4 linked regions of the Homo sapiens genome follow. The protein of the gene in region 1 purifies or fractionates together with the protein of each later gene. This does not show direct contact. Each region holds a gene or a part of one and is shown on either strand. Other genes may lie near its edges.

The links.
Region 2: the proteins of ANKHD1 (region 1) and TSNAX fractionate together in Homo sapiens (co-fractionation; one large-scale study listed by BioGRID). This does not show direct contact.
Region 3: the proteins of ANKHD1 (region 1) and TNPO1 fractionate together in Homo sapiens (co-fractionation; one large-scale study listed by BioGRID). This does not show direct contact.
Region 4: the proteins of ANKHD1 (region 1) and FNBP1 fractionate together in Homo sapiens (co-fractionation; one large-scale study listed by BioGRID). This does not show direct contact.

The regions. Positions count from the first base shown.
Region 1 is NC_000005.10:140,404,745-140,408,386, forward strand, and holds part of ANKHD1 (ankyrin repeat and KH domain-containing protein 1), read left to right. Parts: intron 1-3,642. UniProt on the Homo sapiens protein: May play a role as a scaffolding protein that may be associated with the abnormal phenotype of leukemia cells. Isoform 2 may possess an antiapoptotic effect and protect cells during normal cell survival through its regulation of caspases.
Region 2 is NC_000001.11:231,531,527-231,535,168, forward strand, and holds part of TSNAX (translin-associated protein X), read left to right. Parts: intron 1-3,642.
Region 3 is NC_000005.10:72,823,019-72,826,660, reverse strand, and holds part of TNPO1 (transportin-1), read right to left. Parts: intron 1-3,642. UniProt on the Homo sapiens protein: Functions in nuclear protein import as nuclear transport receptor. Serves as receptor for nuclear localization signals (NLS) in cargo substrates.
Region 4 is NC_000009.12:129,921,190-129,924,831, reverse strand, and holds part of FNBP1 (formin-binding protein 1), read left to right. Parts: intron 1-805; coding exon 806-988; intron 989-3,642. UniProt on the Homo sapiens protein: May act as a link between RND2 signaling and regulation of the actin cytoskeleton. Required to coordinate membrane tubulation with reorganization of the actin cytoskeleton during the late stage of clathrin-mediated endocytosis.

The DNA of each region.
Region 1 (3,642 bases):
GAGACAGGTTTTGCTATGTTGTCCAGGCTAGCCTCAAACTCCTGGGCTCGGGTGGTCCTCCTACCTCAGCCTCCTAAGTAGCTGGGACTATAGGCACACGCTACTGTGCCTGGCAACCATTTGCTTTTTTATAAGTAATAGTCTTAAATTTCTTCACAGGTAGAGCACTAGTTTGCCCCCAAAGTCATAAATTTGTCTCTCTCTCTTTCTGACTGTGCATGTCTGTGTGTGTGTGTGTGTGTGTGTGTGTGTGTGTGTGTGTGTGTGTGTATGTGTAATGGTCTTTGGAGTCTCCATACCATGTAATTAAAGCTATGGGCAGAATCCATGCCTTTTGTATTTTTGAAGCTTATTGTAGAAGTCATGTGTTGGTGATTCCTACACCCACTTAGTGGTGCCTAATGTTAGAAGAGCCCCATATTCTCCTGTTTACTTATGTTTTCTGTGCCTAAAAGGATTTACAGGTTAAGAGTACATGTAGACCTCATTTTTGGAATGGAAGTTTCTAGGATACCCACTTTAGCCTAATCTAAGATGATGCTTAGTGGGTGTATAGATGCTTTCTTAATCTGTGTAAGCAGGAAATTTTTTTTGGGTCCTGTTTCTCCCATATCACATAGAGAGGAAATTCTTGGAGTATCTAGTCTTTATAGTATGTGTGGTAGAGTATAGTCTGTGCCTTTGTGAATAAAATGACCTGTTTTGGCCAAGCAAAAATTTTCCCTTTTCTTTTTCTGTCTGACAAGATGAGCTGTCTTCTTTTATTATTATTGCCTTTGAATTTTCAGTGTGAAAAGGTAACAGTGTTCTTCAAAAAATACTCATGTAATTGGCATTTGATGAATAATACTAAAATCCTCCGTCTCATCTTTCCTAAATATTTTGTTTATTTTTATTTATTTTTTTGAGACAGGGTCTCATTCTGTCACCCAGGCTGGAGTGCAGTGGCACGATCTTGGCTCACTGCAACCTCCGCCTCCTGGGTTCAAGCGATTCTTCTGTCTCACCCTCCTGAGTAGCTGGGATTACAGATATCCACCACCACTCCCAGGTAATTTTTATATTTTTGGTAGAGACAGCGTTTTGTCACGTTGGCCAGGCTGGTCTCAAACTTCTGGCCTCAAGTGATTCTCCCACCTTGGTCTCCCAAAGTGTTGGGATTACAGGTGTGAGCCACCATGCCTGGCCTTCATTTTTCCTAAATATTTATAACCACCGGGCATGGTGGCTCACGCCTGTAATCACAGCACTTTGGGAGGCCAAGGCGGGTGGATCAGCTGAGGTCAGGAGTTAGAGACCAGCCTGGCCAACATGGCAAAATTCTGTCTCTATTAAAACAAAAAATTAGCCGGGCTTGGTGGAGGGCGCCTGTAATCTGAGTTACTCAGGAGGCTGAGGGAGGAGAATCGCTTGAACCCAGGAGGCAGAGGTTGCAGTGAGCCGAGATCACGCCACTGCCCTCCAGGCAGGGTGACAGAGAGAGACTCTGTCTCAAAAAAAAAAAAAAATAAATTATTTTAGAAACAAGTACCTAGACATCCAAAAAGATGATGAATTGGTGTGTAGTTTGGGAGTGAAGTTTGTCTTGTTGCTCTAATGGGGCAGGATTAGGTGAGAAATAAGAAATGTGGAGCCCTAGTATTTTTGCTCTAGAATTAGTTGGTCTTCTACATTTTGTGTACAGAGGAGTAGACCCTCTAAGGACCTCTTTATATTTAATATCAGAGCCAAGAGCTGAGAAAAAACAAGCTACTCTTTCTTGCTGGCCAAGCAAAAGACCTTTTGGTTAGAGGAATGGACTCACATCTTTCAGTACATTTTTTTTTTTTTTTTGAGATGGAGTCTTGTCGCCCAGGCTGGCACGATCTTAGCTCACTGCAACCTCTGCTTCCTGCATTCAAGTGATTCTCCTGCCTCAGTAGTGAGATTACAAGTGCGTGCCACCATGCCTGGCTAATTTTTCTATCTTTAGCAGAAATGGGGGTTTCACCATATTGGCCAGGCTGGTCTCGAACTCCTGACCTCAGGTGATCTGCTCGCCTAGGTCTCCCAAAGTGCTGGGATTACAGCCGTGAGTCACCCACCTGGCCCTTTTGTTATTTTAAACATTGGGGTAAATACCTGCTTCGTATTTCTTCAGGCATTCTTAGCATGTTTCTTAGCTATCGAAGCCCTTGATTAGAAGAGCTAGCACTGCATTGAATCCTATTAAGAAATGTATCCATGTTCAGAATAGAAGTTAGGTTAAAAATTTCTTAAAAACCACTTTAGGCCTGGTGCGGTGGCTAACGCCTGTAATCCCAGCACTTTGGGAGGCCGAGGTGGGTGGGTCACAAGATCAGGAGTTTGAGACCAGCCAGACCAACATGGTGAAACCCCATCTCTACTAAAAAACAAAAATTAGGTGGGCGTGGTGGCACGCACCTGCAATCTCAGCCTACTCAGGAGGCTGAGGCAGGAGAATTGCTTGAACCTGGGAGGCAGAAGTCGCAGTGAGCTGAGATCGCGTCACTGCACTCCAGCCTGGGTGACAGAGTGAGACTCCATCTCCAAAAAAAAAAAAAAAACCACTTTAAAAAATGGTTTTTATTTTAAATTTTTATTTATTTATTTTGAGATTAGGATTACAGGTGTGAGCCACCACACCCAGCCTATTTTTATTTATTTATTTATTTTTAGAGATGGGCTTTTGCTCTGTCACCCAGGCTGGAATGCAGTGGCATGATCATAGTTCACTGCAACCTCGAATTCCTGGGCTCAAGCAATCCTACTGCCTCAGCCTCCCAAAGAGCTAGGTCTAACTAGAGGTGTACTCCACCACTCCACCTGATTTAAAAAAAAAAAAATGTTGCCCAGGCTAGTCTTGAACTCCTGGCCTCAAGGGATCCTTCTGCCTGGGCCTCCAAAAATGCAGAGATTACAAGTTGTAAGCCACTGTGCCTGACCGAAAAACCAATTTTTAAATTTTAATTTTAGAATTGTGGTCTTTTAATTTTTTTAGCAAATCGAAATAAAAATACAGTTTCTAAAGAAAAGATTGTGTGAGACATGGTTTTCAATTTTTGTCGTAAGAATGAATGTGTGTGTATATGTGTGTTTGTGTGTGTATGTGTGTGTGTGACGGCCCTCTTTTAAAATTATTACAAAAGTGGCCGGGCGCGGTGGCTCACGCCTGTAATCCCACCACTTTGGGAGGCCAAAGCGGATGGATCATCTGAGGTCAGGAGTTTGAGACCAGCCTGGCCAACATGGTGAAAGCCTGTCTCTACTAAAAATACAAAAATTAGCTGGGTATGGTGGCAGGCGCCTGTAATCCTAGCCACTTGGGAGGCTGAGGCAGGAGAATCTCTTGAACCCGGGAGACGGAGGCTGCAGTCAGCCAAGATCATACCAGTGCACTCCAGTCTGGGTAACAGAGCAAGACTCCATCTCAAAAAATTAGAAAATAATAAAATTATTACAAAATAGTTACTTGTTGAAAAACTCAACAATATAGATAGTAGGTATAAGGGGAAAAGTAAAAGTGCTTCTTCCCACCCCCATTAATTCTTCAAATTCTACCCTTCAAGGTAACCAATATTAAAATTTTTCATTCAGTAAATTTTCTAGGCCTATCTTTCTATGTATATATGTATATATGTT
Region 2 (3,642 bases), on another chromosome or scaffold:
ATCTAACTTTGTGTTCATAGTGTCTGACTTACAGTGGTCATTAATATAGCCATAATAAATAATGAATACATATTGATTATCTTAACCCTGGCCTAGTTATTATCTCAGTAATAAAAGACTAGATATATTTAGATCCATGTCAGCTACTAATTTAGTTAATAGTTTAAGTTCTTGTTTTTTCAGTTCGTGCAATATACATGATTGGGTGTTTCCTATAGGCCAGGCAGCTTGCGGGGCTGTGGAGTGAAAAGACTTGGGAAATAAAGGCGTTATTAAGAGAGTTAAGTGGTTTAAGGGTATTTCAAGGTACAGAGCTTGATAAATTCAGGAAGTTTATACTTGAAATTTGCTAAGTAAGTAGATCTTAAATGTTTTTACCACAATTAGCTGGGCATGACAGCATGCGCCTGTAGTATGCTTATAGTCCTGGCTACTCCGGAGGGGCTGGGGCAGGAGGACTGCTTCAACTCAGAAGTTTGAGGCTGCAGTGAGCTGTGATTGGGCCACTGCACTCCAGGCTGGGCAACAGAGACCCTGACTCAAAAAGGAAAAAAAAAAAACTAACTGAGGTGATGGATACGTTAATTAGCTTAATAGTGGTAATAACACACACACACACACACACACACACACACACACACACACACACACACACACACAGTTTTGGTTTTTTTTTTTTTTTGGAGACAACGCCTCACCCTGGCCCAGGCTGAAGTGTGCAGTGGCGTGATCTTGGCTCACTGCAAGCGTAGCCTCTTGGGCTCAAGTGATCCTCCCACCTCAACCTCCCAAGTAGCTGGGACTACAGGCATGTGCCACCACACGTGGCTAGTTTTTAGATTTTTTTGTAGAGGCAGGGTCTCACTGTGTTGCCCCTGCTGGTCTCGAACTCCTGGGCTCAAGTGATCTGTCCCCCTTGGCCTCCCAAAGTGCTGGGGTTACAGGCATAATCAATCATGCCTGGCCTTATAATTTTTAATTGTCAGTTATACCCCAGTAAAGGTGGAAAAGCAGGAAGACAACAGGGAAAAAAATTTTAATAAACTTGAAAAAAAAGGTCCAAGTTTCTTTTTTTGGAGGTGTTTATATTATTAATATATGTGGTTAAAGTAATTTTTAAAACTTTATGTAACTCTTTGTTACGTGTCATTTTGTGATAATCTCTTGTTTACTAAGTTCATTTTTTACAACTTGTACAGTATTCCCATTGTGAGACTAAGTAGTAAAACCCAGTTAATACATACCTATATTTAAAGAGGAAAATATTTTAGTTGAGCCTTTTTGATTTCCATGTAATTTAGAAATAAGATGATTTTATTCTCTTCATTTTCATAAACTGAATAATTATTGCTTTCTTACATATAGAGACAGTACTTTTAGGTACAGACTGTTTTTGCTTTCTAGCCATTTGTATTCTAAGAAAATTAAAATCATTTCCCTTTTTTTTCCTTTCATAAGATTTACCAAGTGTTTTGGAAAAGTTTGACATAAAAGCTTACAGGTCTGTCAGAGGAGATTTTAAAAGGGATTTCATGGGAAGTCTTTTTTTTTTTTTTTTGAGATGGACTCTCACTCTGTCACCCAGACTGGCGTGCAGTGGTGCAGTCTCAGCTCACTGCAACCTCCGCCTCCCAGGTTCAAGCAATTCTCCTGCCTCCGCCTCCCAGGTTCAAGCAATTCTCCTGCCTCAGCCTCCCAGGTAGCTGGGACGACAGGCCTGTGCCACCATGCCCGGCTAATTTTTGTATTTTTAGTAGACATGGGGTTTCACTATATATTGGCTAGGCTGGTTTTGAACTCTTGACCTCAAGTGATCCACCCACCTCAGCCTCCCAAAGAGCTGGGATTATAGGCGTGAGCCATCGCGCCCGGCCCGGAAAGTCTTTAATGAGAAGCACTAGCTTCCAGACAAAATTTCATGAGATAGTATAGTTTGTTCAACTCAAACCCAGGATCTTTAATGTCCGAGCAACCACTTTGCTATCAAAGTTGGAGTTAATTGCATTAAAAGGAGTTATCAGATCAATATTCTACTGTTGTTGAATCATCTGAGTAAAGAAATACTGTCTCTTTTTAAATTTATTTTGAGGTAATCTCAAATTTATTTAAAAAACTAGAAGACTTAATGCAGTTGGAAAAATAGTACAGAGAATTTCTGTATAGACTTGACTTAGATTGACCAATTTTTAACATTTTGCCACTTTTGCTTTATTATTCTCTCTATATATGTAAATTTATATGTCTAACCATATATTCTGAACCATTTAAGAACAAGTTGCATGCATCATACCCCTTTACTTGTTAATACTTCAGAATATATTTCCTAGGAAGAAGACTATTCTGTTGTATAACTCTAGTATTGTTAACTAATTTCAGGAGATTTAACACTGACATAATACTTTAATCTACAGTGCATATTTTGACAATTGTCTCAATAAGGTTCCTTCCAGCTTTTTTTCTCTCTAGTCCAGTAATCTAGAACAGGATCACATATTACATTGTAATGTCTCTTTTTAGTTTTCTGTGATCTGGAACAGTTTCCCAGTTTTGTCTTTCTTGACAATGATATTGATTGAAGAATATAGGTCTTATTTAATAGAATATTCCTCAACTTAGATTTGATTAATATTTTCTCATGGTTAGATTCAGGTTATGCATCCCTGGCTGGAATACTACATAAATGATGGTTTGTTGATTTGTTCTTTTTGGGGGTATTGCAAGGGACCAAGTAATGTAAGGCTTCATAAAGAGTTTGGAGTTTGTTAAACGTAATGCAGAGTCATTAGAGAGTCTTAAAAACTAAAGTATATTTTAGAAATGTCACTCTGGCAGCTACAGAAAGGCAAGGTGGGCAGACGCAGACCAGACAAGAGACTATTTTGTAGTTCCGGTACAGTAAGGTATTTGTAAGGTAACTTAGAGGTAATAAAGTAATAAGGTAACTTAGATTTGGATGACAGTAATGAAGCTGATGAGACAGATTCAACAGTGCTTTATAAAATTAACTTATATTACTATTATGAGTAATTTATACTTTATTCCAACTGCATTAGCATACATTTGAAAAAGTAATAGCAGCAAAATAATAAGACATTATTCCATGTTAGGGGCAGTGCTTATTGGGCACATGGATTTGCAGTTCCTTTTCAACAATTTCTTAGTTCCCAGGAGATTGCATACCCTTAGTACGTTTATCTCAAACTACAACAGATGCTCTTATCCAGTATGTTATACTGCTTATGATTTCAACAAGCAGTTCAGTCAGGAAATGTTTTGTGAACACCTGCTGCTAGACATGGATCTATGCTCTGATACAGTGGTGAAACAAGTGCATTTACAAATAAATAATATAATTTTAGCTAGCGAAGGATAAATGTAAATCAGTGAAGCGTGGTAAGGAATGGAGAGTAAGGGAGGAGGGAGGCACGTGATTCTTAAGCAGTCCTTGAGCAGAATGATATCTGAATGATGAAAGTGAAATGTGAGATGATGAGAGGCAGTAGCAAAAATAGAGGCATCAAGAAAGGTACAAGCTTAGAGAATCAGGACTAGCAAGAAGACATAGTCTGCCTGGCTCATGAGCTAAGGGCAGGACATGAGGCAGTTTAATGTGTTAGAGGCATGAATTTACTATGAAAAGAT
Region 3 (3,642 bases), about 68 Mb from region 1:
TATATAGGTCTATTGGTGAACATTTAACATAATTACCATTTTGCACCATCACGAACAATTCATTTAACAAATACTTACTAAGTGTCTACTACATTCTAGGCTCTGTATCTGTATCTTGCAGATACAGCAAAAAATAAAACAAAGATCTTGCCCTCTTGGAGCTTGTATTCTTGCAGGAGGAGGAGGACAATAAACAGAATAAAATACATAGTGTAAACTTTTTTTGAAAAGGGACAGAGAGTAAATATTTTAGGCTTTGCAGGCCACATATATATGTCACGTATTTTTTGCTTTGTTTCATAACCGTTTAAAAATGTAAAAACCATTCTTTTGCTTATAGGATGTACAAAAACAGGGCAGAAGCTCATGGAGCTGTGGCTTGCTGACCCCTAATATAGTATGTTAGAAGGTTGTATGTGCTATGCAAAAAATAAAAAGGAGTCCAGGATAAGAGTGGGTGGGGAAGGGCAGGATAGAATATAGTATTAAACAGGGTATTCATAGATGGTAAGATCTGAGCAAAGACTGGGAGGTAAGTCCATTGAGCCAAGCAGATATGTGGAAGAAGTACATTTCAGAGAGTGGAGCCAGCAAGAGTCCTAAAGTAGGAACAGGACAGACATAGCAAGCAGGCCAGTGAGTAAGGGGAGAACAGTGGTAACAGTAAATGAGGTCAGGAAGGTAAGGAGAAAGTGGAGTGGATTGGGCAGATCATGTAGAGCCTCACAGGACCAGCTTTTCTCTGAGTGAATGAAAGGGAATGTCTTAGTCCATTCGGGTTGCTATAACAAAATACCATAAATGAGATAGCTTATAAATGACAGAAATTGATTGCTTACCATTCTGTAGGATGGGAAGTCCAAGAGCAAGGCATATTCAGTATCTGGTGAGGGCTGCTTTCTAGCTCACAGACTTCTTGCTGTGTCCTCAAGAGACAAAGGGCAAGGGATCTCTCTAGAGTTTTGTTTTGTTTTGAGACAGAGTCTCACCCTGTCACCCAGGCTGGAGTGCAGTGGCGTGACCTCAGCTCACTGCAACTTCCGCCTCCTGGGTTCAAGCGATTCTCCTGCCTCAGCCTCCCGAGTAGCTGGGACTACAGGCACGTGCCACCACGCCCGGCTAATTTTTTGTATTTTTAGTAGAGACAGGGTTTCACGGTTTTAGCCAGGATGGTCTCGATCTCCTGACCTCATGATCCGCCCACCTCAGCCTCCCAAAGTGCTGGGATTACGGACATAAGCCACCGCACCTGGCCTCTAGGACTTTTTAAGGGCACCAATCCTATTCATGAGGACTCCACTCCCATTTCCTAATACCTTGGGAGTTAGGATTTCAACAGTTTGGGAGGACACATACATTCAGATCGTAACAGGAGCCATTGCAGGAGAAGTGACAGGGACTGTCTTAATTTGCGAAAGGTTTATTCTGGCTACTGTATTGAGAAAATACTGTTGGAAGGGGATAGGGCAGAAGGGGCAGACCAGGTAGTAACCTATTTCAGTAATCCAACAAGATGTGATGGTAGTGGCTTGGACAAGGGTGGTGGCAGTGGAGGAAGCAGTGAGGCATGATAGGATTTTCGATGTATTTTGACGATACAGAAAACAGATTGTCCTGAAAGAACAGATCTGAAGAGTAAAAGAAAAAGTGAAGTAAAAAAATAAGGCCAAGATTTTGGTCTGAGCTACAGGAGGACGGAGTTGCCACTGACAGAAATGGGAGAGTCTGTGGGTAAAGCAGGCATTGGGGAGAAAGTTTAGGAGTTTAGTTTTGGATATGCTGACTTTGATGTCTATTATTAAACATTTAGGGGAGATGTTGAATAGGTAGTTGCACATGTAAGACTGGAATTGAGGAGGGGGCTAAAGATCTAAATTTGGGTATTGTTGATATTTACATGGTATTTCAAGCCATGAGACTAAATGAGATTACCAATAAAGTGAGCATAGATAGAAACAAATAAACAAACAATTAAGACTTGGGGCTCTCCAACATTAAGAGGTCAGTGAAAATAAAGGAAAAGGAGAATTACAAGGACCAGCACTGAGACAGCAGATAACCAGGAACGTGTGACGTCCTCGAAGGCAAAGAAGAAATGGTTTCAAGGCTAAGGGAAGCAAACAGCTGTGTCAAATGCTGCTGACAGGTCACATAGGATGAGAATCAATAACACAGGGCATTTAACAATATGGGGGCTACTGAAGAACCAGAGGAGCTGTTTCTGTGGGAGTGGTGCAGACAAAGACCTCACTAGAGTGGGTTTAACAGAGTACTAGAGGAGAGAACTTGGCAATAGCAAGTACAGACAACTATTTTGAGAAATACTGCTCCCAAAGGAAACAAAAAATTGGGGTAATGTGGTGAAGTGGGACAAGATTTTTTCCTAAGAGGGGAGAAATAATAGCATATCTGTTTGCTGATAGAAATGATTCAATAAAAAGAACAAAATTGATGATGTGGAAGAAGAGAACCTGAAGCAAAGTCCTTGAGCAGATGAGAGAGAATGGGGCCTAGTACAAAGGCAGACAAGAATATGAACAGTTAATCTAAGGTAACAGGCAGGAAGACAGCCATGTACTGAGCAGATGCTGCGCAGACCCTTTCATAAATAGAGTGCCAGAGGTATGTGGAGTGGTGGCAATCTATGGAAGTTCTGATTACTTCAATTTTCTCAGCAAAGTGGGAAGCAAGGTCATGAGCTGAAGGTGAGGATGGGAAAAGAGATATAGAAGGTTTGGGGAAAATAAGATATGAAATAGTCATTTAGAGGAGTGGAAGAGTAAGCAGACTAGGAAAATACAGTACAACCATCAGGCAGCATTACAGACCCACTTAAGGTTTGTGGCCATGTGTGGTTGTGTGGTTTTTTTTCTGGCCATGCTCAGTTACATAGGGGCAAGTGCAAAAAAAACCCCAGAGTTTGTTTTAACTAGAGCTCTGGTTTTGCCAAACAAGCAAAGAGCAAGGAAAGGGATCCAAAGAAGTAATTAAACTGATTAATCATGAAATTTAGATGAGTAAATTCCACATAAAAGGGAGTGAAAACATCAAGAGGGTAAGGGGCAGGGGAGCAGTAATAGGATCAATGGGTTGGAGATTCCATTGGGGTCAGAAGATGGTTAGGGCTGAGGCACTAGGAGTGAGCTGCAAAAATAGGAAGAAGCGGTAACAGAGCAGAACACATGAAATGGCAACTATGGAGGGACTGCAGTTATTGACAGTGCACGAGGGTATCACTGTGGAATGAGTGGCTGATATAGCATAGATGGGAAGAGCACTGGAAGAGAGGTCTAGGAAGTGAGAGGCCAGGGTTTGGGTGGATCAGTTATGTACATTCTTATCAATTTCAATATAAAGACTGGAGAGTGGGACAGTGGGCCTTTATGACATAATTCAAAACTGAAGATTATAGGGAGAAAGGAGGAAGCATAGTCTGAAAGAAGTAAGAAGACTCATGACAGATATCTTTCCCACCTCTAGAAACAGTGGGAGGAAAGTTACGGAGCAAACAAACAAAAACAGCCACAACTGCACAGTGGAAGAGAGTCCGGTTTCCATTACAGCAAGAAAGTGAAAGCAACATCTAAGAATGGTTCAGACTGGATTTTGCAGATGATGGATAGTTAATTTCACAAAGTACAG
Region 4 (3,642 bases), on another chromosome or scaffold:
TTATGTTGAGACAGTATTTCTTTTTGGTGGTGGTATCTTTGCCATGGCCCTGTGTCTTATTTCAGATGCATTATCCTCGTACCGTGACTCCCACACTAACAGAGTACTGACCTCTCCACCGTTTCGCCTCATGCCTTTCCCTCCTTCCTCTCCTAGACTGCTGGTTACCTTGGCTGGGAGAGAGGATGTAGTGGGACATTCCTGTAACACTTTATCCGCACATCTACTGGAAATCGTTACCATGTTAATAACTTGGTTTTGAATTCATGTTAACATGTGTACCCATGAACATTTTTCATTTTCTTTTCATAGTGCGATACATAGGTGCATGACAGCATTAACCTGGGGACGTAGAATATGATCAAGGCAGCATTACTGCTTTAACTTTAGAATGACTTACTATTTATTAATTTAAACAGACTGCTGTTTCCACAACCTTAGCATTGAAGGTCTTTCATTTTCTCCCATCAAGCTATGTTAGTTTAGGTAATGTAGAAATATTTACCCTCTGGCTTAAGCTGGTTTAGAGTAACTAACTAGAGCTATAGTTTGCATGGGAAAGTCTGCACGAGCTTCTTGTCAGATATTTCTTGCTCTTCTGTCGCATTACTTACTAAACCTCCCAACTCTCATCATATTCTTCATTTAACCACCTCCTACATGTTTTCTTTTGGACCATGGCCTAAAATTTAATTGTTTGTGTTTTACTTGCGTTGGATTTCAAATATTATTTGATGCTTATTTTTGTTTTGTGTCTTCTTGTTTCTGATTTTTACTCTGTCACGGCTCCATCTCTTACATGTAGCTTATGTCCCTTTTAACATCCCCCCATCAGCCTCCCCCTCCCCCTCCTGCCTCTGCCTCACCCTCTGCTGTTCCCAACGGCCCCCAGTCTCCCAAGCAGCAAAAGGAACCCCTCTCCCATCGCTTCAACGAGTTCATGACCTCCAAACCCAAAATCCACTGCTTCAGGAGCCTAAAGCGTGGGGTAAGTTCTGCTCCGGAATCCTGTCTCTCTGGCGTGCTTTGGTTGCATGTTTGGTTCTGCATAACTAATTTTGTTTGTGAATGAATCCATTGTGTTTTCCCATAACATATAAAAAAGTTAAAAAAAAAAAAACAAAAACCATTATAGCTAGAAAGAAAAGCCAGAAAGAGGAAGAAAGAAAGAAGGAAGCATGGTGGTTGGAAGAAAGGAGAAAACCAGACAGCCCAGAGTTCTTTCTATTTGTTTCTTTCTTTTTTTTTTTTTTCCAGACAGAGTCTCGCTCTGTCACCAGGCTGGAGTGCAGTGGCGTGATCTCGGCTCCCTGCAACCTCCACCTCCCGGGTTTAAGCGATTCTCCTGCCTCGGCCTCCTGATTAGCTGTGATTACAGGCATATGCCACCACGCCCAGCTACTTTTTATATTTTTAGTAGAGACAGCATTTCATCATGTTGGCCAGGATGGTCTCGATCTCTTGACCTTGTGATCCGCCCGCCTCGGCCTTACAAAGTGCTGGGATTACAGGTGTGAGCCACTGCGCCCGGCCTTTTTCTTTTCGTTTCTAGTACATTTTGGAAGGACTTTACCCCTCTTCCTCTTTAAAGCATCCAAGTCATGCATTTTCTACCTTAATTTTACCAAAAAAAACCACTTAGATTTCATTTCTAAAACTAGCGACCTGAGACTGGGCGTGATAGTTCACATCTGTAATCCTAGCACTTTAGGAGGCCAAGGCAGGAGGATTGCTTGAGCTCAGGAGTTCAAAACCAGCTTGGACACCATAGTGAGACCCCCATCTCTTAAAAAAATATATAAAAATTAATAGGACAAGCGCAGTGTCTCATGCCTGTAATCCTGGCACTTTGGAAGGCCGAGGCAGGAAGATTACTTGAGCTCAGGAGTTCAAGACCAGCCAGTACAACATAGTCAAACCCCATCTCTAAAAAAAAATAATAAATAATAAAAACATAAAACTAGCAACCTATGAGATGAGGAATTGGAAGTCACTGTGTAAGTCAGAAAATATTGCCTTAATAACTACTGAAGCAATGTGAGTGTAATGAAGATACTTGCCTGAGCTATGCCTCAGGGTCGAAAGGAGAAGAGTCATAAGTCACAGTGGTTTCATTCGCTATTTTAGTGAGATTATATAAGATGTTGATAAAATATCTGTTGATTGGAAGGGGCCTGATGCAGAATTTCTCTTTAAAGGATGAAACAATAAAAGCAGCTGACACTTACTGAGCACTTATTGTGTGCAAAGCTCTGTTCTGTGTGCTCATTTACTTTTTTCCAGCCACCCTATGAAGCCCAGGTAGTACTCATATTTCCTTATTTTACTGTAAGGAAATTGAGGCATAAAAAGGTGAAGGTGGGAAGATACAGAGCCGGGATTTAGATCCGGGGAGTCTGATTACAGAGTCTGAGATTCTGTGACATCCACATTCAGGGAGAAACTACTATATTGACTCGTAAGTGGTTGTTATTAAGATTGAAGTCCGCTGTCCTCATTAAGATTGATGTGCGCTTACATCATAGAGATAATGGAATTGATGCAGCCATCCAATGTAGATACCAGTTTCGTTTACAGAGAAAGATTGGCATAAAGCAATGTGTAGATTCCCAAATCATTCTCAATGGCCAGTCTAGTCTAAGCCTTCCCAAAATATCTTTTATAATGAATATAATGAGTAAACAGATCTTTAGACTGGGCCCAGTGGCCCACGCCTGTAATCCCAGCAGCGTTAACATATCCAGTAAGGTTTTCTCCTTTTTTTTTTTTTTAAATCCTACCCTGTGGGAGTTGCAATACAGTTGTAGTGGAATGCTTTCTTGTACAAACATAAGTTTTACTTTTCCCTTCTCCTGGACTCTCCAGTCAACTGACGGTTGGGTTACTTCTTTCCAAATAGTACCTGGTAGTGCCCCAAAGCCAGAGGTGGATGCCATCCTTTCTTGAGTGTCAACTGACACATTGGCCTGGGAAAAGATTCTAAACTACAACTAATTAACTAGAGGAGAGATGTCCTTCTTAGACTTGGAATCAACAGCTGGTTACTAGTAAAAGAATAACAGTAGTCATTGTTAACCTGACAATCGTATTTCCACAAAAACAACTCTGTGTAAAAAAGAGGCCTGGCACAGTGGCTCATGCCCGTAATCCCAGCACTTTGGGAGGCCGAGGAGGGCGGATCACCTGAGGTCAGGAGTTCGAGACCAGCCTGACCAACATGGTGAAACCCCGTCTGTACTAAAAATACAAAAATTAGCCGGGCATGGTTAATGTCCGGCTAATTACAGGCGGGTGCCTGTAATCCCAGCTACTCGGGAAACTGAGGCAGGAGAATCGCTTGGACCTGGGAAGTGGAGGTTGCAGTGAGCCAAGATCACGCTATTGCACTCCAGCCTGGACGACAGAGCAAGACTCTGTCTCAAAAAAGAAAAAAAAAAAACCCATGAAAAAATAGCCAGGCATGGTGGCATGTGCCTGTAGTCCTAGCGGAGGCTGGGATGAGAGGATTGCTGGAGCCCAGCCAGGGCAACAGAGTGAGACCCTTTCTCCAAAAAAAAAAAAAGTAAAGAATGTAAATTCATAATTGATAACAAGTTTATTATCAATGCTTTTTAAAAATAGGGGACAAAACAATATTTCCTC